Regions from separate parts of the Homo sapiens genome. Here all the other regions are linked to region 1. Evidence: fine-mapped expression QTL. A gene starts in region 1. Each other region holds a variant in brackets. All regions are shown on one strand. Distances are from middle to middle. Region 1 holds the start of FBXO10 (F-box protein 10). Region 2 overlaps FBXO10 (F-box protein 10). Region 3 overlaps FBXO10 (F-box protein 10).

Region 1 (10,278 bases):
AAATTAAAAAACTTAAAACTATATTGTTTAGGGATATATACATAGGTGATATAATTACAAAGAAAAGCAAAAAAATGATTATCACAAGATGATTTCTTCTAGGGGAGGAAATTATGATTTGGAAGCAGGTACTGAGTATTGGCAATGTTCCAGTTCTTGACATGTTGGTGATTACGTGTGTATTTCCTTTAGAGTTATTTGCTAAACTATATATTGTGTTTTTTACCATGCATATTTGCTGTATTTCATATTCAAAAAGTTTAAAACAAATAAATGAAATAAATATACTGATTATTGTTTCTTAGAAAAATTGAGAAAACTAAAATCCTTTATTTTTAAATTAAAACCTTGCCTGCAAAATCCCTAACAGGGTACATGCCAAGTAAATTTTCCAGAATGCCTAAATCTGTGTGGCTCAGGGTGACCTGACGACCCCTCTTTACATATGGAAAAGTAAGGTGAGTAGGCACCCAAAGTCCTGGGGTAGCTATCTTGTTGAAGGCTGTCATTCCTGAGAATCATCGGTAGGCAGAACCCTGGAGAGTATGTGGAACCAATTTGCCAAAGGGATTTGGGTTAAGGTTAAGAAGAGAAGGGACTGAGCCCACAAACTCTGATAAGAAGTTTGAAAACAGAGACATCTCTTGGGTGGTCTAGATGACCATGACCAAGGTTGCTAGCAGGAAGGGCCCCAAATGCCCTAAAAGAGAACTCTCCAGGACACCAGGGGAACCCAGCCTGGTGAAAAGCTCAACAAAAGCCCAGAGTGAGGTGCTTTGGGGAGAATGGCTGAGCACGCAAGCATAAATGAAACAAGCTCTAACCTTGGAAAACCAAGCATGGAATCATGCTGGCAGAGATTTGGTCCAATAAGGGCATTGAGCAGCAGTGATCACACATCCGTGGACTGTGTAGGACAGCTCTTCAACAGTTATGCCATATAGCTGTGTCAGGAATGACAATGTGTGTGGACTGCTCAGACAATGCAGTTCTCTCTCCTCTGGAGAGTGACAGTAAGACTGACCCCATTGGAATGTATAAGCCCCCAGAGAGGCTGGAGAAGGAGACACTGGAATTCTCACTAATAAGGACATTAGAGAGGACTTGGGAGTCTACTTAGAAAAAAATAAGGAAAGACAAGAGTGAATGTAAACCCAACTTGTGAAATGAGACACACATGTTAAACATCTAAACTGAAATAGACAAAATCTTAATCAAATGTCTCTTTGTGTACATTCCTTTATGTATACAGTATCAAACATTTTAGACGAGTGGGAAACTAATAATCACTAAACTAAAAGAGGGTAATGAGAGAAATTAGCAGACATTTCAAACAAAACCCATGACAGGTAACTCAAGAATAGGTTCATTCATTAAGGCAAACTGAAAGAACAAAACACTTGTTCCATCTATTTCCTGACTGAAGCAGGTACAAGGAATTTGTTTACTTCACATCTTCCTGTGAAAAGCAAGTGATGTCTTCTTGGTTGCCCAGGACACCATCCCTCCCATCTCTGAGAGCTCTTGCTGACTCCCTATCTACATCATCAGAGCCCCCACTAATCTGCCCTCAGTTTTATCCCTGCCAAAGAATCTGAGGTCCCTAAGGCCAGAGTCTACGTATGTTTTTATCTATTTCTACTCACTCCCACTCCTCTTGGCACTGCCACCAATGCACGTTTATTGAAGGAAAAAAGGAGGGAGGGAAGGAAGGGATAGTGTAACTGCACTGCAACTGAAAGAAACCAGAGAACGGAAACTCATGGTGACCTGGTGACTGCTTGAGCATTTATTGCTTAACAGCTACTTGTGCGATCATAAAAATACAATTCCCCTGATAACCACGGCAACCAAAATGATGGCACTATGGTGAAGGCGGCTCTTCTCAGAAATCTAAAAACAATAATAGGCTTGAAACCAGAAAGACAAAGAAATCCAAGTGCTCCAGGGCAGAAGGAAATCCTTTCTTAAAAGCCCTGATAAAGCAGCTTTTTCTCCAGTCTCTCAAATCTCACCAGGCTCCAGCAAGGGCTCTGGAACTGGTGTGAGGGATCAGGAAACAATTCAGGCCTCTCTGTGTGCTCCTATCCCTGGAGGCCAGCTGTTATGAGGTAAGCTCACTGGGAGCTGCAGCTTATTGTTATTTTAAAATGTACTGAGAACGGGCAGGGAGATGGATATATATATAAAACATTATATAACCTCAAACTAACATAGCTAGCTCTGGAAAAAGCCCCTTGAGGACAGGGACCATGTGTGTCTTGTTCACAGCTCTATGTCCAGATCCTAGTAGGTGTACAAGACAGAGTAGGGGTTCCATATAGCTGCTGAATAAATGCGGAATGAGATTAGAACTGAGGGAAAGCACAGTGCCTGGTAAAAGGTCCATCCTCTCCACTACCCACTGCCAGCACTCTGTTGGGTCCTGAGCAAAATCAAAGTCCTGTCGTCCTTCTGGGTCCAGTCTCTCCATTTGCAAAGGAGACAGCTGGATTAGATGGTTTCCCAGGCATCCTCCAGCTCTGACAGTCAATCACCGTACTGTGTTTTTTTTTTCGGTGGCTACACATGCCTGGCACTTTTCTCTCCCCTCAGAGGGAATCTGATACCAATCTGCTCAAGTAAATTGATGTTCCCATCCAGCCTGACTCATATGGTAGGAACAACAGGTTCATATGCCAATTGTAAAAGAGAAGGCAAAGGGGGCCCAGAATGAGAAAAAGAAAAGGTCTTACAAACCAAAACGGCAGTTTTCAGGACTAAAAATATAGAAACAAATGTGATTATTCTGCTGAAAAAGCCCTTCACGTGGGGCAATCTCTAGCTTACTAATAATGCTTATATTAACAGCATTATCTACTGAGGCTTTTGTGCCAGACACTGTGTGCTAAACCCTTTACAATTAATCCTCCCAGCAACCCATGAGCTTATTACCTCCTTTTCACAGATGAGGAATCAATCTGGCTGAAGGTCACAAAGCCAGTAAGTGGCAGAACTGTGATCTGAACCAGAGCTAACTGACTCCAGAGTTCTGGCTCCTCAAATGACTTTCCCCTCTGTTCTTCACTGTAGTCCTAAGAGCGAGGCAGGACAGGGGTTATCACTTTTTGTTTAAAGATGAAAAAACCGTCTGAGAGGCTTGAGATTTGCATAAAATACACAGTGGGTGCCCAGCCCCATATTTGCCCCTTGAGATTTGCATAAAATACACAGTGGGTGCCCAGCCCCATATTTGCCCCTGCGTTCCTAGGTGAAGGCTCTTCCCATCCCAAGAGTCAGCTTCTTCTTCTTCGACTTTACTTACACACTCGAAAAATCTCAGGGCTGGAGGCACCGCGGAGATACATGCTCCGCGTCCGGTAGTTTTACGGGAGGGTAAACCAAGGCATAGCTCTCCGTCGGCGCGCCTGAGCCTCCGGATGCCGGGGGACCGCGGAGCCGCGGGCGGCCTGAGGGTACGCCTCATGGTCCTGCCAGACCCCTGATGCCCGAAGCCCGACCAGACGCTCAGCCTCGGCCAGGACTGAGCGGCGCCTCCTGGGTCGGTCGCCTGGGGAAGCGCCCCGGGTCCCCTCCCCCGGCCGCCCAAGTTCGCCCGCAGCCTCTGCGCACCGGCCGCTTACCTCACAGGGCGCTCGCCCACCGCGGAGTCCGGGCCGCGGCCGCCGGTGCCCTGGAAGCCACCCGCCGCCCCCGCTGGAGCCGCAGCAGCCGGTAGGATTGCGGCGTGCGGCCAGCCCCGCCCGGGGGCGGACAGCTGCCTGGGGATCGTGCGGAGCCGCCGCCGTCATGTGACGCGCAAGGCGGCGAAGGATGCCGGGAGCAGCTGGCTGGCCGGGGCTGGGCTTCCCGACCACCGCGCATAAAAGCTGTATCTGCAGGAGGGGCACCGGGAGGCGGGAGGAAGGCAGACGAGGAGGGGGCGCGTGGGGCTTCGGGTACTGCAAAGGCGAGCTTGCGGAAGGACGATTCAGGCTCGTGTTGCGTGGCCCCAGAAGGGGCAGAAATAGAACCAGTGGGTGGAAACTGCAGGGAGGCATGCTAAGGCCAATACAGTGTAAATAAGATTCCTGCGAGCACCAGTTATCTAACAGTATAAGGAGCAGTTTCCTGGGGTGCTAGGCACCCTGTAGATGAGCATGTAGGGTCTGGGTTCATTCACTGAACAAACTGACCATTGGCTACCTGCCAGACAATGTACTAGGAGTACATATTAAATTAGTTGTATGTATGGCGCTTAGCATAATGCCTGCCACAAAGTAAATGCTGTATGTTTGTTGCTGCTGGTGCCGTTACTATTATGGGCACAAAAGTGAACAAAGCAGATATGGTTCCTCTTCTCCTGAAGTTAATTCTGTAGTGGAGAAGGTAGACGGTAATCAAGTGTCATTTAAACCAATATGTGTTTAAAATTGTAGAAAATGCACGGAAGGAGCTGTAATTTAAAAATAGGGGCCAGGTGTTCATGCCTGTAATCCCAGCGCTTTTGCAGGCCGAGGCTGGAGGAAAGATCACTTGAGCTCAGGAGTTCGAGGTTAACAGTGAGCCATGATTGTGCCACTGCACTCCAGCCTGGGTGACAGGGCGAGACTCTTGTTTCAAAAATAAAACTAAATAAATTAGGGACCAAGGAAGGGTAGTCAAGGAAGACCTCTCAGAGTAAGATAAAGAGTTAGCCAAATGGAAGAGGGGCAGGGTAAGCCCTGTGAAAACTCTTGGACCAGGTGGGTTGGGTTGGAGGAGAAAAGATCGCTCTTTGTGGAAATGGAAAACGTCTAGCTTGTCTGAAGCTTTTTAACGGGAAGAACAATATAAGTGAGGTCAGAAAGGTAGGTAGGGGCCAGATCACGCAGCACTTAATAGGCCATGATAAGGATTTTAAAATTGTACGTAACAGGAAGCCATCGAAGGGGTGGAGGATTTGATACCTTTTAAAGCAGTATGTCAGCTACTATGTGAAGACAGGAGTTAAGGGTGGAAGCAGAGATTGGTAGCTTAACCTATTAACTGGGCCCGTGGAGGTGCTATTTATTGAAATGGGAACTATTGTAAGGGGAATATATTTGGAAGCGGGGGGAGATCAAGAACTCCCATTTGAACTTGTTAAATTTGACACTGCCAGTTAGAATGACTATTAACAAAAAGACAAAAAAATAACAAATGCTGGTGAGGACATGGAGAAAAGGGAACTCTCATACACTGAATTATACAGCCAGTATAGAAAAATGCATGGAGGTTTCTCAAAAAAGTAAAACTAGAACTGCCATATGATCCAGCAGTCCCACTGCTGGATATTTATCCAGGAATGGAAATCAGTATGTCAAAGGTATGCCTGGATCCCCATGTTTATTGCAGCACTATTCGCAATAGCCAAGATATGGAAGCAACCTAAGTCTTCATCAACAGATGAATGGATAAAAAGAATGTGGCATATATACACAACAGAATACTATTCAGCCTGTCATTTGCAGCAACACAGATGGAACTGGAGGTCATTATGTAAAGTGAAATAAGCCACGCATAGAAAGACAAATATCACATGTTCTCACTCATACGTGGGAGCTAAAAAGTTGATCTCATGCAGTTGGCAAGTAGAATGACAGTTACCAGAGGCTGGGAGGGGAAGGGGATAGAGAGAGGTTGGTTAATGGGTACAAACATGGATAGAAGGAATAAATTTTAGTGTTCAATAGCACAGTAGGGTGACTGTAGTTAACAATAATTTATTGTATATTTCAAAATAGCTAGATTTAAATGCTCCCAATACAAATAAATGATAAATTTTTGAGATGGATATTCTAAATACCCTGATTTGATCATTACGTATTGTATGCATGAGTCAAATATCACATGTACCCCATAAATATGTACAATTATCTATCAATTAAAAATAATTAATTTTGAGATGCCTGTGTGTCATCCAAGTGGAGTGATTAAAAAAGCAATTCACGGCTGGGCGTGGTGGCTCACGCCTGTAATCCCAGCACTCTGGGAGGTCGAACGGACGAATCACGAGGTCAGGAGTTTGAGACCAGACTGACCAACATGGTGAAACGCCGTCTCTATTAAAAACACAAAAATTGGCTGGGTGTGGTGGCGCGTGCCTGTAATTCCAGCTATCAGGAGGCTGAGGCAGGAGAATCGCTTGAACCTGGGAGGTGGTGGTTGCAGTGAGCAGAGATCGTGCGCCACTGCACTCCAGCCTGAGTGGCAGAGTGAGACTGTGTCTCAAAAAAAAAAAAAAAAAAGCAGTTCACTTGTAATCCCAGCTACTCAGGAGGCTGAGGCAGGAGGATCGCTTGAACCCAGGAGTTTGAGACCAACCTGGGCAACGAAGCAAGACCCTGTCTCTAAAAAAGAAAAGGAGTTGGATACAGACCTCCGGAATTTACGAGAGAATATCAGCTATAGAAACATAATTTACCAAGAATACTATGAAAAAGAAATTATTACACGAAATTGTGGCCTGAAATAATTGACCCCGTGGTCCTACTGACCTTTTTCAGTCCCTGGTTCTATAGAATATATTCCATAAAAATGTATTCCATCTATTATTACCATATGGTGAATGTGGTATGATTCTGGGTGAGGTCTAAGTTACCATGTAGCTGGTCTCTTTTATAAATAAGAAAACCAAACACTAAAACCTAAAGCCAACAATTTATTTTAAGACACAAAGTTGTACAGTAGCTAGGTATAGTAGAAAGACCACAGGGGTAGTCTCACACTGCAATGAGCCTGATGATTTACCTTGCTGACTGACAAAGCTATGCCATATTTAATCCTTTGAAAAGTATCTTACTCCATGAAACTGGCAGTCCAGATATGACTGTCAATAAACAATCAAAAGCTTGAGTTTCTGGATTTGTGCCAGCTAACATTATCATTTTGGTATTTGTATAAAACAGCTGACTTTCAAAGTGCTACAGCAGTGTCCTACAAGAGCAAGCTGTCTTCCCTATTAGTGGGGCAAGCATCACGTGCCACATGGGAATTTTTGTTTGTTTTGAGATGGGGTTTTGCTCTTGTCGCCCAGACTGGAGTGCAATGGCATGATCTTGGCTCACCGCAACCCCCACCTCCCAGGTTCAAGCGATTGTCCTGCTTCAGCCTCCCCCGTAGCTGGTATTAACAGGTACCAGCCACTAGGCCCAGCTAATTTTTGTATTTTAGTAGAGACGGGGTTTCACCATGTTGGCCAGGCTGGTCTCAAACTCCCGACCTCAGGTGATTCGCCCGCCTCAGCCTCCCAAAGCTCTGGGATTACAGGCATGAGCCACCACACCTGGCCAGGGGTTTTTTTTTTTTTTTTTTTTTTTTGAAACAGAGTCTCGCTCTGTTGCCCAGGCTGGAGTGCAGTGGCTCAGTCTCAGCTCACTGCAACCTCCACCTCCTGGGTTCAAGCGATTCTTCTGTCTCAGCCTCCCAAGTAGCTGGGACTACAGGCTTTCGCATTTTCAGTAGAGACAGGGTTTCACCATATTGATTAGTCTGGTCTCAAACTCCTGACCTCAGGTAATCCACCTGCCTCGGCCTCCCAAAGTGGTGGGATTACAGGTGTAAGCCAATGCGCCCAGCCAAAAATATAACTACTTAAATATAAGAACATCATTCACAAACTACAGTTGAGCCCTCTCTTCTTTCTGCCCTCATCTCACCTCTGCATGCCTCTATCCTACCATTAGACTCGAGAGGAAACTTACTCATCTTTATACACTGGCACCTGGCTGGTGTTTACTGGCAAATGTATAAGTGAACACACAAAATCTCCTCAGCCATGGGAGCTTTATTTACTTTGCTTTCCAGAAAAAGTAGGCTCACACAGAGTGGTGTCCCAGGTCAACATAGTGGACATGCCATGCTTTTTGGCTGCCCAGCATCTGAGGTCCCTTCCTACATTTGGGAATTCCTTGTTTATGAGTTTGCTGGGAAGCAGAACATGCCTTTCACTATAGAAGTGGAAATTCCAGGTATTTTCTCTGCTTCTCCTTGTGATTCTATCATGCTACAAATTACTCTTGATTTTGAATTAAGTACCAGAGACACAATAAAGTCTCTGGAATAATTTTCTCTGGGACCATGGCAAGTGCGGCAAGTTCTTAGAGCAACACTGGCTGCCATGATCCAGGGTTCTGTGCATGTGGCTTTGGCAAAGTAAGTGGTGGCACCTAATGTTCAGCAGAAATGGCGTCCTCACTGCCCCAGCTCTGTGGAGTATGACCAAGGAACAAAGGGTGATGTTCCAGTTGCCTACTCTCCAAGCCTAATTCTCTAGGCCTCCTGGTGATACTGAACTCCCTGTTATCCTTTTAATAAAATACTTTTCTTTTTCTGTCAAAATTGGATTTTGGTGTTTGCAACTAAAAAATCTGACTCACATAGTCACATGATAAATAGCAGAGCTGAAACTATAATCTAGGACATTGAAATCCTAATTCTAGTATTCTTTCCATGTAGACAGATCTCTACTTTCCAACAACCCACAATTTTTACATTACATATCGCTGTCCCTAAATCATTTTGTTCACCGAATTTATACTTGAATATGTAAGCTGATTAGTGAACATTTCAAGTGACTGTATTTCAAATGCAGTATTATCTTTGTACATCTGTTTATGTAATAGTTTCTTTCTTTTTTGCATTTTTGGCCTCTATATACTTAAGTGGAAATGAAAATACCCCGCACTTGAACAAACGTGGGAGTTAGGGGCCCCGACACCTGCACAGTCACAAATCTGCATGTAACTTTGACTCCCCAAAAACTTAACTACTAATAGCCTACTGTTGCACAGAAACCTTACCGATAACATAAAAAATAGATTAATATGTATTTTGTATCATTATCTATTATATACTGTATTCTTACAACACAGTAAGCTAGAGAAAATGTTAAGAAAATCACAGAGAGAAAAAGCATTGACAGTACTATACCGTATTTATTTAGATTCTAAGTTTAGGTTGTCTGTTTACAAGATTAGTCGTGTCTGAAATCAGAGCAACTACAGCTGCAGACCTCAATCTATAGTACATATCAAGAATTCAACTTTTTCCTTTAATGTCATGACTTTTCTCTGCTTCCTGGGAGCACTTCCAGCATCACTAGTGGCACTCTGTATAGATCCCATGGAGTTATTCAAAGTTTTGTGGTATGGTATTAAACACAAAAAATACATGAGACAGAGAGGGATCGCTTTTACTTTGATTTGCAATTTACTGGAGCGAGGAACTGCTCATGCAGAGATGAGTGTCACATGGCATTTTAAGTGGATACCTATAACACTTGAGCTCCCTGCAGTGGCAACAAGAGGTGGCTATGGACTTACTGTATTACACTATTACAAAAGATAATTTTATGCAGTTATGATTTAATACTGCATCTTTCTCTTGACCTCAAATTGTGCTATGTATGGTCTGTGTACATAAGTTTTGATAAATCTTAATTTTTTATAATAGATGTGTGCATTTTATGAGTAAGACTACAATCTACATATATTTTATGCATTCATGACATCCTTTATCTTAAATTTTTTCAATATTTCTAGACTACATATGTGTGCTTTTTTCAAATTGTTGCAAATCTCCGATTTTTCAACGCATTTTTTGAAAAAAATCTGCACGTAAGTGGACCTGTGCACTTCAAATCTGTGTTGTTCAAGGGTCAACTCTACTATTACTAATGTGACTGAGAAAAAGATGAAAAACTATTAGACACGCTTAAAGTAGATCTTTTTAGCCTTATAATGACTGTTGGACTAAAACCAGCTGTGTTTTATTTCTGAATGAAAGAAACAATTTAAGAACATATTTCATAACTCTGAAAATATTTCGTATGTTTAAAAGACAAAGTGCATAAATGATTTTGTAATGTTTTACATCTCAGTAACAAGTATATTCAACTTTTACATATGTGATTTCTATGTTTTGTGTACTTATGCTAAAGTAGGCAACTGACACCACATAGGCATATCTGTAATACTGAGCATACACAAGTAGCATGTAAGTAGCAACTGTTCACTGTCTCCTGGGTGATGTCCATAACACAGAGTAAGGAAAAGGTCTTGTGTTTTATCTCAAATTTATTATGACAAATTTCAAAAAATACGTTATTAAAGGTTGTTCTTGTGTAGTGGAATTTGGAACTGCAGTATACACAATAGCCAGCAGATGTCAGAATGGAATCTCTTAAGACTCAAGTATGAAAACACAATAAATAACAGGAGTTTCTGGAAGGACTGAGGCTTTCTTGCTCTTCTGTGCACAACACACTTCAGTCACACT
Region 2 (10,278 bases), 45 kb before region 1:
TGTTCTTGTACATGTTGTATATCACTGCCCCCTTATATAGAGTGGCTGGAATGTGTGTTCAATGAACAGCACACACACATACAAATACACACTCTTCTGTTCAGGCAATAATGCAGAAGAAGGGAAAGAGCTCTATGACCACTAATTGTTTTTAGTAAGCTGTCTGTAACAGTGAAAAATAGGATTATATTCCGTAATTTTTGAACCAGCAATTAGGTCTGGTTCAAAAATTATGGCATATCGAAATACTGGAATATGGTGAAACTTTCCAAAGTGATGAATGTAAAGGCCATGCATGCAACAACATGGAGACAAAGTACCTATGGAATAATGCTGGGGGAAAGCGCTCTGAATATACTTGCTGCCCATTAATGCCAGCTATTCTCCTAAAGCACAGACATAACTGTGTGAGTCTTCTGCTCAGAGCCTTTAATGAGTCCCCGCTGTGTAGACAGAATAGGCTCCCCCGCCTCAGCTTGGTCTACATAAGGCCTTCCTCATCTGGCCCAAGCCTTTCTTTCCATCATTCCTTTCCACTCTGCTGTGTGGCACAGATGGTCTGCCGCAAGGACGTCAAGGGTCACACTGCAGTGACCACAGGGCCCAAGATATTCTGGGACCATCCCAATTTAAAATATTCTATAGCACTGTCACACCATGTCAGATTTTTTCTCAAGCCACCGTCAACGGTTTGCTAACCCCTGAATCTGCTGTGCCCTGCTGCCTTTGCTCATGCTGTTCCATTACTAGGAACATCCACCGACCCCTCCCTACCCCTATCTCCATGAGTCCAAGTCTTACCCATATTCCAAAGTCTGACTCTGATGCTACCTCCTAAATGAGGCCTTCCCACATCCTCCTAGTCAGAATGAGTCTCTCCTTCTGGTACCACTCTGACAGCATTTATCACAGTCTGCCCCATACTAGAGCTGGGATGGCAGACAGGGTCCCAGGACTGCCACTGCTGCCTCCCACCTATCACTTATATCAGTCCCTGACCACAGCATGCTTTTGTGCTGAGGCCAGGTGCAGCACCAGGATGTTGACACAGCACCCCCAGGCACCACTAGCAAGTAACTGAAACTGTTAGGTGAGCTGAAATCTCTGTTCCATCCCTGCCTGGGGGTACTTCTGTGCCCATTTCTCCAGGCTAGAGTAAGCTCCCAGGGAGCAGAGCCTGCCCATGTTGGAAGTGCTCAGTAGTGACTGCCGAATAGAACGCCTACACGGAGTTCACTGGAAGGGCACATAAACACAAAAGCCGCTGTGTTACTGGGGTGGGATGATGAGTGAAGTCTCTTCTCTGCTTGCATCTGTACAGTTGTTTCCGTAAAGAGTGTTTTCAAATGGAGGAGAGACAGGGAGGAGGTTAACAAAGATGAAGGAGGGAAACAGCAGCACACACCTCACAACGGGGTTTCCGTGGTACAGGATGTAAATGCCAGCCTCCTTATTGGAAAAGATTTGATTGTTCCGGATGATGCCTTTCCCATTGCCAAGGACGACAATGCCAGAGCGAAGGCCATGGTGGATCTGGTTACACTGCAAGTGAAAATGAGACACCACAGAAGCCAGATCAGACACGTCAGCGAAGCAGAGTGCCCAGGTGCCGCCCACACCTCCGCGGCAGGATGAACACAGTGGAGAAAATGACGTCACTGTAAGAGCCCTAGCCCGTGACAAAGGGAATGGGTCACACTGCCGCCCTGCCCTTCCTGCACCAGTACACACATGAAAACCTGTAAGGGAGACTATGAAGACTGGAGTCTTCGCTGCCCAGCCTCTTAGGAGGGCTCTTGGTCTTCACCTGCAAGGCAGGCTACTGAAAGTTTCAGAGCCTCTAATGAGTCCCCTAAACACATAATCATTTGGCCAGGCCATAACTTCTAGGGTCCAGGGAGGCCATCTCTTGAGGAAAGGCAGCACCCCAGTGCAACCAAATGTTGGCCAACTGCAGTCCTAAAGGGGCCACATCCAGAGAGGGGTCACAGTTGTTTGACTTCTAGTCCTTTCTCATTTAGGGAGGGCCAGCGGAAGATGCAGACACTGGGGGGCCAAGCTGTCCCATGGGGCATAAGGTCTTAGAAGGTGTATGAGCTACAGAATGCCAAGAGATATCTTTTTTTTTTTTTTTTGGTAGAGACAGGGTTTTGCTTCATTGCCCAGGCTGGTCTTGAACTCCTGGCCTCCAGTGATCCTCCCATCTTGGCCTCCCAAAGTGCTGGGATTACAGGTGTGAGCCACCACACCCGGCAAGATATTCATTTCTAATATCTCTTTGTGCGAATGGGAAAACAGGCCCACGATTATATAGTACATTTGTGGAAAAGCCAGATCTGAAATCTAGTTTTTCTCTTTCCCATTCCAGTTAGTTGCTTTTGCACAGTGACTTAATATTTTTAGATTAGAATAATAATAAAATTATCTCACTCTAAGTTAATTTATAGCTGAAGTCCAATTCTATACTTTGTAAATTGGGAAGTTAGCTGTATCTCTTCCAAAATGATTTCGCAGAAATAAAGTTCTAGTTGGCTTTAAAGTGTTTCGTGTGCAAACTCTCCTTATTCTTACTCTTTCCAGATTTTTCCTGAAGGATTTGGCAGGCTCATCAGAGCAACCACTGCCTAAGAGAAGTCCCGCACAGGGCTGAAGAGCTCCAAAAGGAGTATGCAGCAGCATTTCCATCCCTACACCCTTTCACAACGCCAGGACTAAAATATACCACTCCCTTCCCCCTCCACCTGCTATCCCTCTGTCCTCAGAAGGGCAAACCCCTCATCTCTCTAGCCAGAGGGGCAATAATTTCCTAAGCCAAAGCCATGCATCAACCACCAGCTGCATGGTAGAAACACAGTGAGGGGAAGGGGTTGGCAGGAGACACTGGCTAGCTGTGTGTATTTTCTTTTTCTTTTTTTGAGACAGGGTCTCGCTCTGTTGCCCAGGCTGGAGTGCAGTGGCACAATCATGGCTCATGACCATGCCATAGTTATGGCAGCCATGACCTCCCAGACTCAAGTGATCCTCCCACCTCCCACCTCCGCCTCCCAAGTATCTGGGACGACAGGTGTGAGCTACCATGCCCAGCTAATTTTTATAATTTTTTGTAGAGACAGGGTCTTGCTATGTTGCCCAGGCTGGTCTTAAACTCCTGGACTCAAGTGATCTTCCTGCCTTGGCCTCCCAAAGTGCTGAGATTACAGGCATAAGCCACTGTGCCCAGCCTTCTCTCTGTATCTTTATGGGCAGTTAAGATATGATGGGTTCAGCATTACCCGTGAGTCAGACTGCCTGGATTCAAATCCCAGCTCTGTCACTAGGTGTAGGACTTTGGGCAGGATCCTCTGCCTCTTCAGGCTCTATATCTTTACTATAAAATAGGGATGATAATAATTCTTCACAGGGTTCTGTAAGCATTAAATGACAAGTAAATATCTATGAAGTGCTTAAAAAAGCATCTGGCGTATAATAAGCATTATGTATTAATGGTGGCTATTATTTTTTCAAGCCCATAAAAAGTCTGTTATATTTCCCAACTCCTAGGAAATCTGTCTCTCAGTATACATGTAACAAAATTCCTCCCATACCCCATAAATCTGTGTAAAAACAAAATAAAAAACCCCCAAACCCCAAACCTGCTTCTCAGGAAGAGCCAGAGCAGAAAAGGAGCTGGTCTCTCGTGTCACTGGCCACACAGTCTAGGATTTTAAGTGGTTTTCACACGGGTAGAAAATCAAACTCAATATGCCCTCACAATAACCACGAAACAATCTTCAGAACTAAATACCCGAAATGTCCTCTTACACAAGTGAATAAACTAACTTGGTGGGTTCGCTGCTGTTGTTTTTGTTTGTTGTTGGATCCAAGTGTCTTTAGGGCAGACATCACTCTCTTTAACCTTATCAAACTCAAAGCCAACCACAGCATATGAGGGCTGAGGGCCCTGTGAGGTTTCCCTGTCTTTCTGGTCCTCCTCCTTATTAACGGGGAGATGACCAGAAAATGACTTGTCCAAAGTCACTGCTAATACACAGACAGAGACACAGAGTCACAAGGACACGCAGAGGACAGAGCAGGAGCCACCTGCAAACAGGAAGCACGTAAATACAAGAGGGCAACGTGTATTTAAATATCCTCACAAATGGTTTCTGAAAACCAAGAGTCACCCTGAATAGGGAACGAACACAAAGTACCAGTATGAGTGGGTTGGACTTTTTCCGGATGTCTACACCAGCCTCTGCATTGTGGTAAATGTTGTTGCCGGCAATCAAGCCACCGCCCTCCAAGCGAAGAAAGATGCCTGACGCTCGGCAGCGGTAAATGTCGTTCCTGAGCATGATGATCTAAGCAGAAAAGAGAAAGCCATTTATTTTCCTGTTACAAATATTTTTTTAGAAACCACTGGAGGAACACCTGAGTCTTTTCCGCACCACCTGATCCATGCAGTTTACCCCGTAGGCAAGAGAAACGCCTCAATGCTGGCACAGCCACGCTCCCACTGTGTGCTCCCAGGACACAGCCATCTCCAGGCCCTACCTGGCTTTGCCCTGCAGGCTCCTTAGCGGTCTCACATTGGTTCTTTTTTTTTTTTTTTTTTTTTTTTGAGACAGGGTCTTGCTCTGTTGCCCAGGCTGGAGTGCAGTGGCATGATCTCGGCTTACTGCAAGCTCCGCCTCCCAGGCTCACGTGATCCTCCCACCTCAGCCTCCCAAATAGCTGGGGCTACAGGCTAATTTTTGAATTTTTGTTTATTTTTATTTTTACTATGGATGTGGGCTGGAGTAATTTTGTTGTTAACTTTTCTATTTTTTGTAGAGATGGAATCTCACTATGTTGCCCAGGCTGGTCTGGAACTCTTGGGCTCAAGCAATCCTCCCACCTTGGCCTCCCAAACT[G/T]CTGGCATTACAGGCATGAACCACTACACCTGGCCCACACTGGTCCTTTAACTAAAACCTGGACCAAAGCTTGGCCCTGTGCTCTATATTCAGAACCTGCAAGCAGCATAGCTGGATGATGGGATAGAAAGGACGCTTAGGGGAAGATGGGACTGAGTGGTCTTCAAACTTTACATGCACTAAGTTTGCATGAAGATTTCCCCAGGGGTCGAGGGTGCAGCTACTTTTAATGAAATAAAGTTCCAGGTCCACCACTTCCAATGCACCTTCACTAAAATCCACCTGTCTGAGACGGCACGGACAGTAAGGTACCACACAGGTTCTCCTCTCCCACCTTCCCTTCCACTTTATAAAACAAAGGCCTGTTCTTGCACATCCTAAATCTTTCATGGTGTATCACCCTGGGGTGGAAAACTACTGAGACTCCAAATGAAGGGATGATTAGAGATATTGGTATAACAAAGCCTCCTTCAAACAAGTTCCCATAACCAGCAACCTGCTAATAAAGGGATATATTTCCAATTACATTTTCTTTTTATGTTTAATAAGTACAGTTGTCTCCCCCATGTCTGTGGGTTCTGCATCCATGGATTCAACCAACTGTGGATTGAATATACATTATTAAAAATAATAAATAATAAAATTGAAAAACAGGCCAGGTGTGGTGGCTCACGTCTGTAATCTCAGCACTTTGGGAGGCCGAGGTGGGCGGATCACTTGAGGTCAGGAGTTTGAGACCAGCCTGGCCAACACGGTGAAGCCTCGTTTCTACTAAAAATACAAAAACTAGCCAGGCATGGTGGCAGATGCCTGTAGTCCCAGCTACTCAGGAGGCTAAGGCAGGAGAATCTCTTGAATCAGGGAGGCAGAGGTTGCAGTGAGCCGAGATTGTGCCACTGTATTCCAGCCTGGGCGACAGAGTGAGACCTTATCTCAAAAATAAAATAAAATTGAATTAAAAAAAACAACAACAGTATAGGCTGGACGTGTTGGCTCATGCCTGTAATCCCAGCACTTTGGGAGGCTGAGGCGGGCGGATCACCTGAGGTCAGGAGTTTGAGACCAGCCTGGCCAACATGGTGAAACCCCATCTCTACTAAAAATACAACAAATTAGCTGGGCGTGGTGGCTCATGCCTGTAGTTTCAGCTACTTGGGAGGCTGGGGCAGGAGAATCGCTTGAACCCAGGAGGCAGAGGTTGCAGTGAGCTGAGATCACATCTTTGCACTCCAGCCTGGGCTAAACAGTGGAGACTCCGTCTCAAAAAAAAAAAAACAAAAAAAACACAACCAACAAACAAAAAAACCCAGTAGAAGAGCTATTTACATAGCATTTGCATCGTATTGGGTATTATAAGTAATCTAGAGATGACTGAAGTGTGGGAGGATGTGTGCAGGTTAGGTGCAAATACTATAACATTTTATATAAGGGATTTGAGCATCTGTGGATTTTAGTATCCTGGAACCAAGCCCCCACGGATACCAAAGCATGATAATATATAAAAAATCTGGAATGTTTATCTATGCTGTCTTAAACAATTATAGATTAATAATAAAATATATTATTATAAATTGTGTACTACTAATAATATATTGCATTAGGACAAAATTCTGTGAAGACTAAAGTAGAACAAGAGTATAAATGGTAAGGTTTCAGCTTCTGCTTAGGATGGAGAAAGTAGAAAGAATATACACAAACATGGACTTTCTGGTGGAACCCATCAGAGCTGAGGCTGCTGGACAACCGGCTAGCCTGAATGCTACAAAAAGACAGGTGCCTTTCGGAGCGTGCAGTGAGCCCAGATCGTGCCACTGCAGTCCGGCCTGGGTGAAAGAGTGAGACTCCGTCTCAAAAAAAGAAAGACAGGCGCCTCCAAGGAGACGAGGCCTGAGCACTTCCCTGCTGAATGCAGGGCTGCATGTGTCATACAAGCCAGTAAGAACTCAGCTAACATTTTCAATGCACTGTTAAAGACCAGCTGTGAATTAGTGTGAGTGCAGAAACTCTGGGAGTAGCTGCACCTGTTCACTTCTCTGTGGCCTTCACTAGGTGTTCATGGAGAAAACTGGGGGCAGATGAGAGACTGGAGACAGCACCCTCCTGACGCAGGCTGGGGACAAAAGTGAGAGAGGCATTAAGCCCCTCTCCTGTGTTCTTTCCCCCTAACTCTCTTACAAAACAAACCGTATGCACAGAGAAACAGCGGGAAAACACTCTTATCTCTGGGGGTGTTGGGAGGAAAGTGACTTAGGCCCAGATCATCAGAGGTCCCCTAGTGCTGGGGGTAGAGCCAGGGTCACTGAAAAAGTCCTGCTCTCAAGACCACAGACACAGCACCTACCTAGACTAAGGATGACCCAGGACAAGAGAGAAACCCTGCCATCACGTAGGGTGACAAATAATGGCAGTCTACTGCTGAGGGAGGGCGAGAGCAGCGGAGATCGCCTCTGAGCAGCAGGCACAAAGGAAGATCTGAAGCGGAGAAAACTAGCACGAGGTAATGCTGGAGAGAGCTGAAGCCTACGGGACGCTGAGGATAATCCTATCATCACCATAATTCAAACGGGCTCAGCTCCTAACTAGATCGACCTCCTAAGAGCCAGGCAAAAGAAGAGGTGTGCCCATTTCCAAACTAAATACTACAGAGCTCAGTCCCCACTGTCCTACATGAGATATCTGACTTCCAACTAAAATTTATGACACATAAAGAAGAAAATCACAGTCGGTGACACTTCTTTTTTTTTATTTTTTTTTTGGAGACGGAGTCTTGCTCTGTCACCCAGGCTGGAATGCAGTGGCGCAATCTTGGCTTTCACTTGCAACCTCCACCTCCCGGGTTCAAGCAATTCTCCTGCCTCAGCCTCCCGAGTAGCTGGGACTACAAGTGCCCGCTGCCATGCCTGGCTATTTTTTTTTTATTTTATTTTAGTAGAGACGGGGTTTCACCGTGTTGCCCAGGCTGGTCTCGAACTCCTGAGCTCAGGCAATCTGCCCGCCTCAGCCTCCCAAAGTGCTAGGATTACAGGCTTGAGCCACAGCACCCGGCTGACACTTTTCTTCTTGGAGCCTCAAGCAACCAGGCTCCTCCTGCCAGCCTTTACCCTCCTGGGATGTTCTAGAGGACAGAGCCAGGTGACAGCCTTCTGTGGGGGAGCAAGGATCAAGGCCTTGCTTGAAAGGGTGAAAGGGTGTGTCTCCCCTTACTTCTGGGCCTTCACACACACCTCCTTTGCCTCGCGTCTTCACCCTGCCGACTTAAGGGGCAGAGCCAGACTTTAACTAGAAAGCCATATTCTCAATAACTATGCAAGGAAGAATGCCCTCCTTGAGGGCTTGAGCCAGATCCTTTCATCGTGGTAGTCACGACAGCAAAGCTATTACCTTTCCCTTTTTATTTGGCCATTTTCTTTTATGTATGTGTACAGGAGTCTTGCATTATGCTTTCAAAGTAACATCACCTGAAATCCTCTTTGGAAGTGGGCTGGGTAAAACACAATTAAATTTAAATTAATTAAAATGTGATTGCTATTAACCATTTTAGAAGCCTGCAACACTCATGAGTGACCTTTGTACAATGTTCTTTAGTTTACTGAATACTTCCGGCATGGGACCTTCCAATAGCCAGTGAGAGAAGAAAAATAGGGATGCTTATTTTCATTTTACGAAAGTGAAGGTCATGTTCATAGTGAGTTAGTGGAGAGGTGAGACTCGAATCTAGGTGCTATGCCATGCTTTCTTCTGCATGGGCTGTCTTTCCCTTCAGAAGGCCTTCCTGTCATCAACCATTTACAGGATTTGCAGATTGTCCTGTGGTGCCCTAAGTCCCAGCACATAGAAGGTGTTGATTGTCGCAGTGGCTAGAAGGACTGTTCTTAGCATAAGGCCCAAATGTCTCAAGGGGGATTCCAGGTCTGGGTAAGGTAGCTTTTGCTCACCCCCAGCTTCATCCTTCAACCTAGCCCCACCGCATGGTTGAATTCAACCTCACACCCAGGCTCTGGCGTAGGATGTTTCTGCTGTTGGGACACCCTCACTCTCCACCCCTTCTTATCACGTGTCCAATTTTCCCTGGACCTTCTTCTCATTGTACCCAGCACAGACGTTTCCTCAACAACCCTACTCCAGTTTGGAGTGAAGGTAGTAATCATATCTCCCTGAATTTTCTCTTATCCAGGCTTTGTTTCTCCTACTCCGACATGGTGAGATATGTGAGCAGCAGCATGACATAGTGAAAAGAGGCAGGAGACCCGAGTTTCTAGTCTCAATTCTGCCTAACTTGCTATGTGACCCTGAGTAAGCCACGTTCTCTCTCTGGGCCTCTCTTTCTGGGAAATGAGAAAAAGCGTTTCTGTCCTTTCCAAATCAGATGATGGGCATGACGTCAAGCGTGCGTGAATAAGTTTAAAGAAAATTATTTTTAAAATGCAAAATAGCCCCATCAAACCCTTCCTACATATAGCCACAGGAGCCCCCTGACCAATCTAAAGTCATGACAGCACCTTGCTATTATGTATACACCGCACTGCGTAAGTCAGGTTCCGGAAGATGTTTCCTTCCATCTTGGCTCTGCCGTGGGAGCAGACGAAGACGCCTCCCTTCCCGTCCCGGAAGAGGCACTTGCGGATGAGGCAGCCCTGCACGGAGTTGGCCAGTGCCATGGCCTCCTTATCCTTCTGCAGCTCCTGCTGCAGTGAGTTCAGCACTAGGCAGCTGGGCAGCTGAATGGATGCTCCTGGTAGAGGTGGGCCCAGAAATGAGCCCCCCAATACAGGGCGTGGGCCCTGCACTTGGTAGGATAGTCTGTACATCAGCTGGTCCTCATCTTCATCCTCACCGCTGGGACTCAGGCCTCCATCGCTGCTGTCCGGGGTCTGGGCCACCCTTTCACCATCACTACCCACCTCTGCCTCCTGTGAGCCAGCCTTGGAGCCTGGCTTTGGGGAGCTAGAGGCTGGGCTGGTAGGGCTCTGGCTGCCCTCGATAACAATGTCACAGGTCTTTGGGCTCCAGGCCTGGTCCCGGCTCTCTAGGTCCAGGGACATTAAAAAGTCAGAGTCCTCTGTGGGGAGAAAAGTGGGTGAGGACTTGATAAGCCCTAGTAGATACTTGTAGGCCCAGTTCTTATCTGCAGATGGGTGACCCTCAACAGTCACAGAGTTGTTTTCACTGCCCACAAATTCACAGTTTTCCAGGACACACAGGGGCACGTTGTGCAGGAAGATATGGGTGTTTTTGAAGGTACAGAACTTCACTTGGCAAGTACCCGGGCCATGGACCTGGATGTGCCCGTTCTCAAAGTTGCAGTTGTCAAACTGGACGTGACCTGATGTTGTCTGGGGAATGAAAAGAAGAAAACGGCTGTAAGAGGGATGAGATTGGTTTTGGA
Region 3 (10,278 bases), 56 kb before region 1:
AGGCAGGTGGATCGATCACCTGAGGTCAGGAGTTTGAGACCAGCCTGACCAACATGGTATCTCTACTAAAAATACAAAATTAGCTGGGCATGGCGGCACATGCCTGTAATCCCAGCTACTTGGGAGGCTGAGGCAGGAGAATGGCTTGAATCTGGGAGGCGGAGGTTGCAGTGAGCTGAGATCATGTCATTGCACTCCAGCCTGGGCAAAAGAGTGAAACTCCATCTCAAAAAAAAAAAAAACAAAAAAAAGGTGGTATATATATACCACAGAATACTACTCAGCCATAAAACAGAATGAAATAACAGCCTTTGCAGCAATTTGGATGGACTTGGAGGCCATTATTCTAAGAGAAGTAACTCAGAAACGGAAAACCAAATATCCTATGTCCTTACTTGCTCACTACTTATAAGTGGGAGCTATGCTAATGACGAAGAAAAGGCATAAGAATGATATAATGGACTTTGGTGACTCAGGGGGAAGGGTGGGAGCAGGGTGAGGGATAAAAGACTATATATTGGGTACAGTGTACACTGCTTGAGTGACAGGGGCACCAAAATCTCAGAATTCACCACTAAAGAACTTATCCATATAACCAAAAACCACCTGTACCCCAAAAACTGTTGAACTAAAAATAAAAATAGAGCCCTTGGGATCGTAATTCCATAAGGGCAGGAACAAGATCTGTTTGGCTCCACAGTGAAACGGAGCTCTGCATAGAAAGGTGCTCAGAGCTCAGTCCGGTGGGGAGACAAATAGGTGAAGGAAGAGATACCAAGCCCTGTGGGGAGTGCTCTGTGAGGACCAAGCCCTGTGGGGAGTGCTCTGTGAGGTATGTGTGGACAAAAGCACTAGACAAGAGATAACTCAAACAGCCTGGGGTGGGAGGTGGGAGCTCAGGGACTCTTCCTGAACAAAGATACAGCTAAGCTGCAGGACTGCAGTGCAAGGCGGGCAGGAGGTATGCAGGGTATATAGGGAAGAGTGTATGCAAAGGCCCCAAGGCAGGATCTCTCTCTTCATGAAGCATCTACTGTACAGCAGGCACTGTGCATGATTATTCTGTTAAGGAAAGAGAGCTGAAATAGTCCTGACCTTGACCCGGAGACCATGAAGATAACTCGGGAGGCTCCCAACACCATGACAAGGAGGGGACACCCCATCCCTGGCTTCCTGCTGGTGAGCCCTTGTTCATCCTTCAGGACTCAGCTTCTCCGTCCCCCCCTGTGGGAAGTCCCACCCACATTTCCCAGGCTGAGTCCTGGCAGGAGGGATACTGTCCCTTGTAGTGCTGAGTGATTACGGTTCTGTTCTCAGCAGAGGCCACGAGGACTATCCCAGGGTTGTGCCCTGTGTGGGCACCACACGTCACACACATGCAGACATACTCACTTTAGTGTCGGACCTGGGCAGCAGCTGCAGCCCGCTGCCCCGGTTGCCAATGATATCGTTTTCAATGACGATGGTGCTGTCGCCCTTGGTGATAATGCCGTGGCCTCTGTTGTCATAGATACCATTGCCCCGGAGCTCCACTTTGCACTGGGCCTCAACCTTGACCCCACTTTGCCGGTTGCAGGAGATGCTGTTGTTGGCCACTCGGGTGGGTTGGCTGCTCTGGGCCACAGTAATGCCTCTGTCCCCATTCGCGTGGATCACATTGGTGATGACATGCAGTGCCTCGCTGCTCTGGACATAGAGTCCTGAGGCTATGGGTGGAAGGGTTGGAAAGCACAGGGGGTCCCAGGGTCAGCCCTGACACCACCAGTCAGGAAAAGCCTTCCCTGAATTGTGCACTCCGGGAGAACGGAGTGGAGAAGAAGAGGTACCAACACTCAGAAACAACCCTTGAGTTTGCGTCTTCCAAGCTGATGAAACAGCAGGAGGAAATCCAGGTGCGTCAACAAAACTCTGGTTCTTCTGCATGAAGTCCTTATTCAGTGTAGCCAGGGAAACACCATGTGAGAAGGCTCCTCTGGCCTGAGCTCCCACCGTGTGCTTGAATGCCTCCTGCACCACCGCCATCCTACTGCCGCTTACACCTCCCTGACGGGGTGCTCACTGCCGCCTCAAGGCTGCTCACTCCCCCTCTGGACAGGCAGATCTACTCATTAGAGGGTTTTGCTTTGCTCTCCTTCCTACACTAACCTGGAATCTGCCTCCCTACTGTTTGGGGAAATTTTCTTTTTTTTTTTTTTGAGACGGAGTCTCGCTCTGTCGCCCAGGTTGGAGTGCGGTGGCGCCATCTCGGCTCACTACAAGCTCCGCCTCCCGGGTTCACACCATTCTTCTGCCTCAGCCTCCTGAGTGGCTGGGACTACAGGCACCCGCCACCACGCCCGGCTAATTTTTTGTATTTTTAGTAGAGACATGGTTTCACCGTGTTAGCCAGGATGGTCTCGATCTCCTGACCTCGTGATCCACCTGCCTCGGCCTCCCAAAGTGCTGGGATTACAGGCGTGAGCCACCATGCCTGGCCGGAAATTTTCTTCTTAATGTAAGTTCTGTAATTTTGGAGTACAAAAACTTACTAAGCGAGTAATATGTGTCAAAAATGTGTTTGAAATTTGGGAAAGGAAAACTGACGCTTGCGGTTGTGTGTACTTAGAGACACTAGGTACATGAGGAGAAAAACCCCAAGTCAGCAGGATTAGAGCTCCATGGCTTGTCAGGAAAAGAAAGCAGGGCAGCCAGACCCGGGGGCGAGGAGAGGAGGGCTCTGCGGTAGGTCCCTCTGCCCACCAACAGCAACAAGGGTTGGGGCAGTGCTGGGGGAGGTTGTGTGCAGGACAATGACTGGGGCCCTGCAGCAGTGTCTGGAGCCATGAGCCTGCAAGCTCAAATCTCTTGGTGGCACCAGCCTGTTGCTTCTCCTGGCTTGGTTGAGAACAACAAAAATAAGTATTTGTGAACGTAGGTGGCTTTGCCTGTCGTACCGGACAGACAGCATGGCCACATGGAGGAACCTCTGACCTGGGAGGAGACAGAACTCATTTTCTGAATAAGTGGGTTGGGGCTGCTGGTTATCCATCTCCCTGTCCTCTACCACTACCAGAAGCAAGTGCTTACCAGGCCCAGGAATCTCTTTTAATTTTATTTTGTTTTAGAGACAGGGTCTTGCTCTATTGCCCAGGCAGTAGTGCAGTGGCACCATCATAGCTCACTGCAACCTCGAACTCTGAGTCCTGAGCTCAAGCATCCTCCTACTTCAGCCTCCCTAGTAGTTGGAACTACAGGCATGTACCACCATGCCCAGCTAATCTGAAAAAAATTTTTTTTTTCTCAGTAGAGATTGAGGTCTCTCTATGTTGCCTAGTCTGGTCTTGAACTCCTAAACTCAAGCGATCCTCCTGCCTTGGCCTCTCAAAGTGTTAGGGTTACAGGTGTGAGCCACTGCGCCTGGCCCAGGAATCTGTTCTGAATAAGCCTTCCTCCATTTCCCGACCCACCCATCCATCCTACCCTCCCACCCCCACCCCACAGTGATTTTGATAATCAGGAGGCTTTGGGAGCCCTGGAGTTAGGTGAACTACACAGTAATTATTTTTTTTTAATTCAAGAAATATCAAACATCTTCTACCATCTTTTTTTTTTTTTTTTTTTTCCTTTTAAGACAGGGTCTTGCTCCTGTCACTCCTGAGCTCTGAGCACCTAGAATACCGTGGTGCAATCACACCTCACTGCAGCCTTGAACTCCTGGGCTCAAGCGATCCCCCCGCCTCCTGAGTAGCTGGGACCACAGGCACATGCCACCAGATCCAACTAATTTTTCTTTCTCTACTCCTTCTTCTTCTTTTTTTTTTTTTTTTTTTTTTGTAGAAACCAAGTCTTGTTATGTTGCCCAGGCGGGTCTTGAACACCTGGCCTCAAGCAATCCCCCAGTCTTGGCCTCCCAAAGTCCTGGGATTACAGGCTTGATCCCTGGCACCTGGCCTCCATTTTTCATCAGGTTTAGGATAACATGGATTTAAAACACTTTTATTTTCTGCCTCTCTAAGAAGGAAAACTCACTGCCAATTAAACCATGATATGCATCTCGTGGGAGATGTTGAATTTTGAGAAATGTATCCTAGAGTTGATTAAAAGCATGTGTGCCAGAGGTGGGATTTGGTACTGCAGGGACAGGGGCACTGAGCTGGGTGGGCTTCAGTTCTTTGTCTCAAGTTCATGGCCTATCAGTGTTGATGAAACAGCCACAGAAATAAATACAGTCGCGAGGCCTCATAACAAGTGCCAGTGGGGATGGGGAGGGCCCAGTTCAAAGGAGGAAGGAATGAAGGGGGATATTCACAACAGGTTTTGAAGTTCAAGTTAGTTTGGGACGTGTGGATGGGAGAAAGGCATGAGTGAGGTCAGCAGGTTAGGAGGCAGGAAAGAATGGATTCAAGTTTAATGAATAAATACAGGAGGATTGGGGATCAGGCTGGAAGAAGTGGCTGATGAGGCCTGAGGGCAAGTTGGGATCAGTCTGCAGAAGGCCCTGCCTGGCGGCCGCACCGTCTCAAAAATAAGAAGCACCTCTGCTCGGCCGCCCCACCGTCTGGGAAGTGAGGAGCACCTCTCCCTGGCCCCCACGCTGTCTGGGAAGTGAGGAGCGCCTCTCCCTGGCCCCCACACTGTCTGGGAAGTGAGGAGCGCCTCTGCCTGGCCGCTGTGCAACCCTCCAAGTGTGAAGTGGCAACCTTGTGTGTGATTTTTCTGCCCTACCCAGGTTTGCATCTTTGACATTAAAGTTTACTTTTAAATTTAAATTAAATTAAAAGTTTTAAATTGGAGAAAAAAAAAGACAGTGGGGAGCCATGGAAGGTTCTTGAGCAGGGGCTGAGGGGGTATACTCACCTCCATTGTGATTAATACTGTTAGACTCAACAAGAGCTATGGTGATGGGCCGGCGCAGTGGGTCGTCCTCCTTCTCCAGCTCTGTCTCCCAGAGGATGGCGTCCCCATCCTCGCTGAAGTTCTCTTGAGCCCTGTGGCCTCGAGGTAACTCGCTGGAGCCATCCTTCTGGCTAAATACTGCCACTCCATACAGGCCATTGTAGCTGACGTGGTTGCTGGTGACATGGGGGAGGCTGGACGACATCATCCACACACCACAGCCCTTGTTAGCTGGGACAGTGAGAGGAGCTGGTCACCGACACTGAACTCAGGTGAAGCGGCACCTGAGTCTCCCTGAGAGGGGAAACAAAAGCCACTGGCCTGGGAGAGAGTCCCTGCCTTGCTAATGACCTCGGACAAGCCACCTGATGGCTCTAGCTGCAGACTTCACCTTCACACAAGAGAGGTCATCAGGATCAGGTGAACCTCACAAGCTCGGCTCGTTCCACACAGTGTGAAAGTGCTCTGAGGACTGTCAGGCCACATGTCCACATCAGAAGCACATGAGCCCACAGTGACAGTGCCAAGGGGGCACCAATCCCTCCCTGCATAGGAGGCAGCCTCAGTTGGAATCCCAGCCCTACCACTTCCCAGCTGTGAGACCCTGAGCAGGTTACCAGACCTCTCTCTGTCCCTCAGTTTTCTCATCTTTTAAATGGGGTTAATAACCGTGCCTCCTTCAGAAGGCAGTCATGAGGATTAAATGTGATCATGCATAGAAAGGGCTGAGTAGAGAGGTGGGCCTGAGTCATCTTTATTATTATCACTGTATTATTAGAGATAGAGTCCAGACAGATGAAGGCTCTGCCCAAAGTCACTGCGTGAGTGAGAAGAGTTTTCTTCCTGTGATTATCTTGTTTTCCCATTATATTTTCCGTTCTCTGGGATCAAAAGAAAGGATAAGAGGAGTTAGATGCACATGAGCCAGGGCTGAAATGGTCCTGTCCTTAAGACATGACACAACTCCTGTCTTTTGCTATTTTAAAAGGGGATAAAGCCTTCTGCTTTGCTAACCCCACGGGGTCAATCTGGACTACAATGTGATTTGTAAGAGGCTCTTTGTTCTGGGAGGGCCTGGGTGACTGTGGCCTGAGAGTGCCTGTTCAGATGAGGTCTTTGAGGCACAGGGAAAGGCAGTGACCTTCTCAGGACCCACAAGCTGGAGATGGAACCTGGGCTTCCTGCCTCCCCGGCTGGGTTGGGAACA[A/G]GCTCCTCACCGTAGATGGTATTTCCTTCTATGAGGCCTTTGCCTTCGTCTCCCACAACCACACCATCTGAATAGCCAAAGCAGATGAGGTTACTCCTGAGAACGGGGATCCCTCCACGGCGGATGTCCACACCTCCCCACTGATTCTCACGGATGACATTTTCTATGGAGAGAAGCAGAAAAGAAGGTCAGTACCCAAGGGCCAGCTCCAGTGCTGGCAAATAGGACTTGGACAGTTTTGATCAAGGCTACTCCAGACCAGAAGGCCCTGGCCTTACCCTGCCAGCAATTAGCACTGTAAATCTTGTCTGCTGTCTGATGTTTCAGGGACTTATCTGCTGACTCCTTTCCCCAAGGGCAAGGCTTGTGTCTATCTTGTGCACTCCTATCTCCCCGGCACCTACTATACACCCAATGGCCTTGAGGACTGATGATTAAAAATGAACTAGTTTTGGCCAGGCATGGTGGCTCATGCCTGTAATCCCAGTACTTTAGGAGGCCAAGGCGGGTAGATCACTTGAGCCCAGGAGTTCCAGACCATCCTGGGCAAAATGGGGAAATCCTGTCTCTAAAAAAAAATACAAAAAAAATTAGCCAGGTGTGGTGGTGCGTGCCTGTAGTCCCAGCTTCTTGGGAGGCTGGGTGGGAGGATCACTTGAACCCTGGAGGTCAGGGCTGCAGTGGGCTATAATCGAGCCACTGCACTCTGGCCTGGATGACAGACTGAGACCCTGCCTCAAAAAAAAGAATAAACTAGCTTTGGTGAGTGACACTGGTGTCCAAAAAACCAACCAACCAAACAAAAAGGAAACAAAACAAAGAATAGGCCGGGTGCGGTGGCTCACGCCTGTAACCCCAGCACTTTGGGAGGCTGAGACGGGCGGATCACCTGAGGTCGGGAGTTCGAGACCAGCCTGACCAACATGGAGAAACCCCGTCTCTACTAAAAATACAAAATTGGGCGTGGTGGCACATGCCTGTAATCCCAGCTACTCGGGAGGCTGAGGCAGAAGAATCACTTGAACCTGGGAGGCGGAGGTTGCAGTGAGCCGAGATCGCGCCATTGCACTCCAGCCTGGGCAACAAGAGTGAGTGAAATTCCGTCTCAAAAAAAATAAATAAATAAACTGGCTTTAGAGTCCTCAGAGGCAGAATGTGGCCATTTACCCACAAGCCTGTGAGAAGGCGCTAGCCTCACCTGCAATGGCTCAGGAGTCTCTGTGTGACTGGCCTCTTCCTGTCTCCATGTCCCCACTGCAGGCCCCTTGTGCACCACACTCCAGTCCCACAAGCGATGTCCACTCGGCCATGCCAAGTCTGTTCTCACAGGCGGCCCTACACGGAAGGTTCTTTCCCAGCTCCTCCAGCCACTCCCACTCAGGGTCTGGTTTCCTTGTCACCTTCTCAGAGGGCTGCCCTGACCACACAATCCCAAATGCCTACCCAGTCCCTCTTTTGCCTTAATTATCCATAGAGCACTTGTCACCCTCAGATGGGATGTTTTTTGCTCATATACGTAGGCTTTTATTTATTTATTCGCTTCCTCTCCTAAAATGTCAGTGGCTGACAGCCTCGTTCACTGCTGCACTTGTAGCTCCTGGAACACGGCCTGTATACCACACGTGCTCAATCCATGTCTGATAAGTTCAGTCAGGGGGATTCCCTGGACCAGTATTTGCGGAATCCCTTTCATATCCCAGGCCTGGCTCTGCTCTGTGCTGAGGCTACATTGATGTACCAGATGGACTTGACCCTCACCTTGTGGAATTTACCACTTTATAACAGAGGAGACGGACACCACAAACCACTAAGAAATTAAGTCAAAGGCCCTAGAGAGGAGGCATCCTGGGTATAGTGAGTGTATCTGTGTACAATGGGGAAGTCAGGGAAGGCTTCCCTGAGGAAGTGACAGTTAAGCTAAGACCCAAAGGATAAGCAGGGGTTAGCCGGGCGGAGGTTTCCAGAGCAGGCAGAGGTCCGCACAAAGACCAAGAGGAGGGATTTGGACAGGTGGTTGGGCATCAGTGCTTCTGAAACTGTTCTGTGAGCCACCTTGTGAGGGCCTGTCGGCTCTGGGCCTGGAAGGAGCAGACACCCACTCTGTGTTAGGCCCTCCTGTAAGAAGCACAGCCACCATGCAGCTGGCGTCCCTGAGCTCCAGCCCACCAGTCAGAGAAAGAGGCCATAGTCTGTGGGGGTAAAGGAGCAGTGTGAGGTCCTGAAGCTGGGGGGTGACGCCAGGGGACCTTGGCCTGGCTGCCAGGTGCCAGGCAGTTCCCATCCGTACCTGTGATGAGGCCTTTGCCGTTCTCATTCACTGCTATGCCGGCAGCACGGCCCTTGAAGATGTGGTTCCCGCTAAAGTGGAAGGAAAACAAAACAAAGAGGTGAGCCCAGGGCATCAATGTCATGCTTCCAGGAGACTGCCTTCTTTCATGGAAACCCTGTCTCTACAAAAAATACAAAAAAATTAGCCGGGTGTGGTGGTGTGCACCTGTAGTCCCAGCTTCTTGGGAGGCTGGGGTGGAGGATCACTTGAGCCTCCCTATGGCTCAAGTCCACAGGGGCATAAAAGCATTTCCTAAAGTCCCTTTATAAGCCAGGCATATAGAAATGTTTAGTTGTCACTGGGACAGCTTGACCAAAAACTAAACCCCCAACTATGCTATACACGCACAATGATATCCAGTTCACTGTAGCCTCACTTGACTGTCATCTACATATATACCCATGCATATATATATACATTTTTTTTTTTGAGGTCTTGCTCTGTTGCCCATGCTGGAGTGCAGTGGCACAATCTCAGCTCACTGCAACCTCCACCTCCTGGGTTCAAGCGATGTTCGTGCCTCAGCCTGGATTACACGTGTGCGCCACCACATCCAGCTAATTTTTTGTACTTTTTGTAGAGATGGGGTTTTGCTACGTTGCCCAGGCTGGTCTCGAACTCCTGGCCTCAAGTGACCCATCCGCCTCAGCCTCCTAAAGTGCTGGGATTACAGGCATGAGCCACCGCGCCTGGCCTTATATGTATTTTATCCAACCCTCAAATGTTTGAACCAGAAAATGTTTACAATTTTTTTGTTTAAGACATGGGTTCTCGCTATGTTGCTCAGGCTAGCCTCAACCTCTTGCACTCAAGTGATCCTCCCACCTCAGCCTCCCAAGTAGCTGGGACTACCAGCATGAGTAACTGAGCCCTGGCATATTTTTACTACAAATCTCACCTCCAGAAAGGATCCGTGGCCACCTGGAGAAGTGTGTGTATGTGTGTACATGGGGCAAGCAGAATAAAGATACAGGAGGGATGAGAAAACACTTAGAAGAAGGGGACAGATCAGTGTACCAAGAGCCCAGGATGGGATATTAACTGCAGATGAGCACAATTTGAGTCCTGTGCTTCTCTGCATCCAAGGAAAAAAGAGAAACATATATAACATATAAAAAGACAAAAAATATAACTTTCTGTGGCAAAAATAGATCCTATGGTTTGTCTCATCCAGGCCATTACAGGGATCTTAAACTTCATTCCGTATCCTGCTCCAGACTCTTATCTCTCATTGCAAAGAAACAAAGGAAAAAAGCACAACCTATTCTCTCAAGATGACTATGTTTTAAAAACCCAACACTGATCTAATTATGATATTCCTCACCCAAAACTCTTTCATGGTTCCCCAGCATCCCCAAGGTAAAGCCCAGACTTTTCAGCTTGGTGTATTAGTTTCCTATTGTTACTATAACAAATTACCACAAACTTGGTGGCTTAAAACAATACAAATTTCTATCTTTCAGTTCAGGAGGCCAGGAGTTCAAAATGGGTTTCACAGGGCTAAAATCAAAGTGTCAGCAGACCTGTGTTCTATCTGGAGGCTCCGGGGAGAATCCACTCCTCATCCTTTCCAGCTCCTAGAGGCCGCCTGCACTTCTTGGGCTGTGGCCTCATCACTCTGACTTCTGCTTCTGTCCTCACATCTCCTGCTCTCTTATTTATTTATTTTTTAAAATATTTTATTTATTTATTTATTTATTTATTTATTTATTTATTTATTTATTGAAATGGAGTCTCGCTCTTGTCACCCAGGCTGGAGTGCAGTGGCACGATCTCGGCTCACTGCAACCTTCGCCTCCCGGGTTCAAGCGATTCTCCTGCCTCAGCCTCCCAAGTAGCTGGGATTACAGGCACCTGCCACCATACC

The links. PIP is the estimated chance that this variant, and not a neighbour inherited with it, causes the effect.
Region 2: its variant is fine-mapped to the expression of FBXO10 in whole blood (TOPMed, PIP above 0.99).
Region 3: its variant is fine-mapped to the expression of FBXO10 in whole blood (TOPMed, PIP above 0.99). The same link has a PIP of 0.9 or more in T cells.

The regions. Positions count from the first base shown.
Region 1 is chr9:37,572,588-37,582,865 of GRCh38, forward strand. It overlaps FBXO10 (F-box protein 10), which reads right to left and starts at 3,793. Exons shown (of 11, transcript NM_012166.3): 1 at 3,624-3,793. RefSeq lists a silencer at 3,447-3,826.
Region 2 is chr9:37,527,719-37,537,996 of GRCh38, forward strand. It overlaps FBXO10 (F-box protein 10), which reads right to left. Exons shown (of 11, transcript NM_012166.3): 3 at 9,392-10,225; 4 at 4,191-4,340; 5 at 1,406-1,542. Among named protein-coding and RNA genes, the nearest start is that of FBXO10, 44 kb to the right of the region's middle. RefSeq lists enhancers at 1,253-1,622, 1,723-1,772 and a silencer at 4,147-4,206. The variant G/T (reference allele first, on the strand shown) is at 4,893.
Region 3 is chr9:37,516,733-37,527,010 of GRCh38, forward strand. FBXO10 (F-box protein 10) reads right to left here. Exons shown (of 11, transcript NM_012166.3): 6 at 8,370-8,440; 7 at 6,093-6,245; 8 at 4,837-5,106; 9 at 1,393-1,706. Among named protein-coding and RNA genes, the nearest start is that of POLR1E, 36 kb to the left of the region's middle. The variant A/G (reference allele first, on the strand shown) is at 6,083.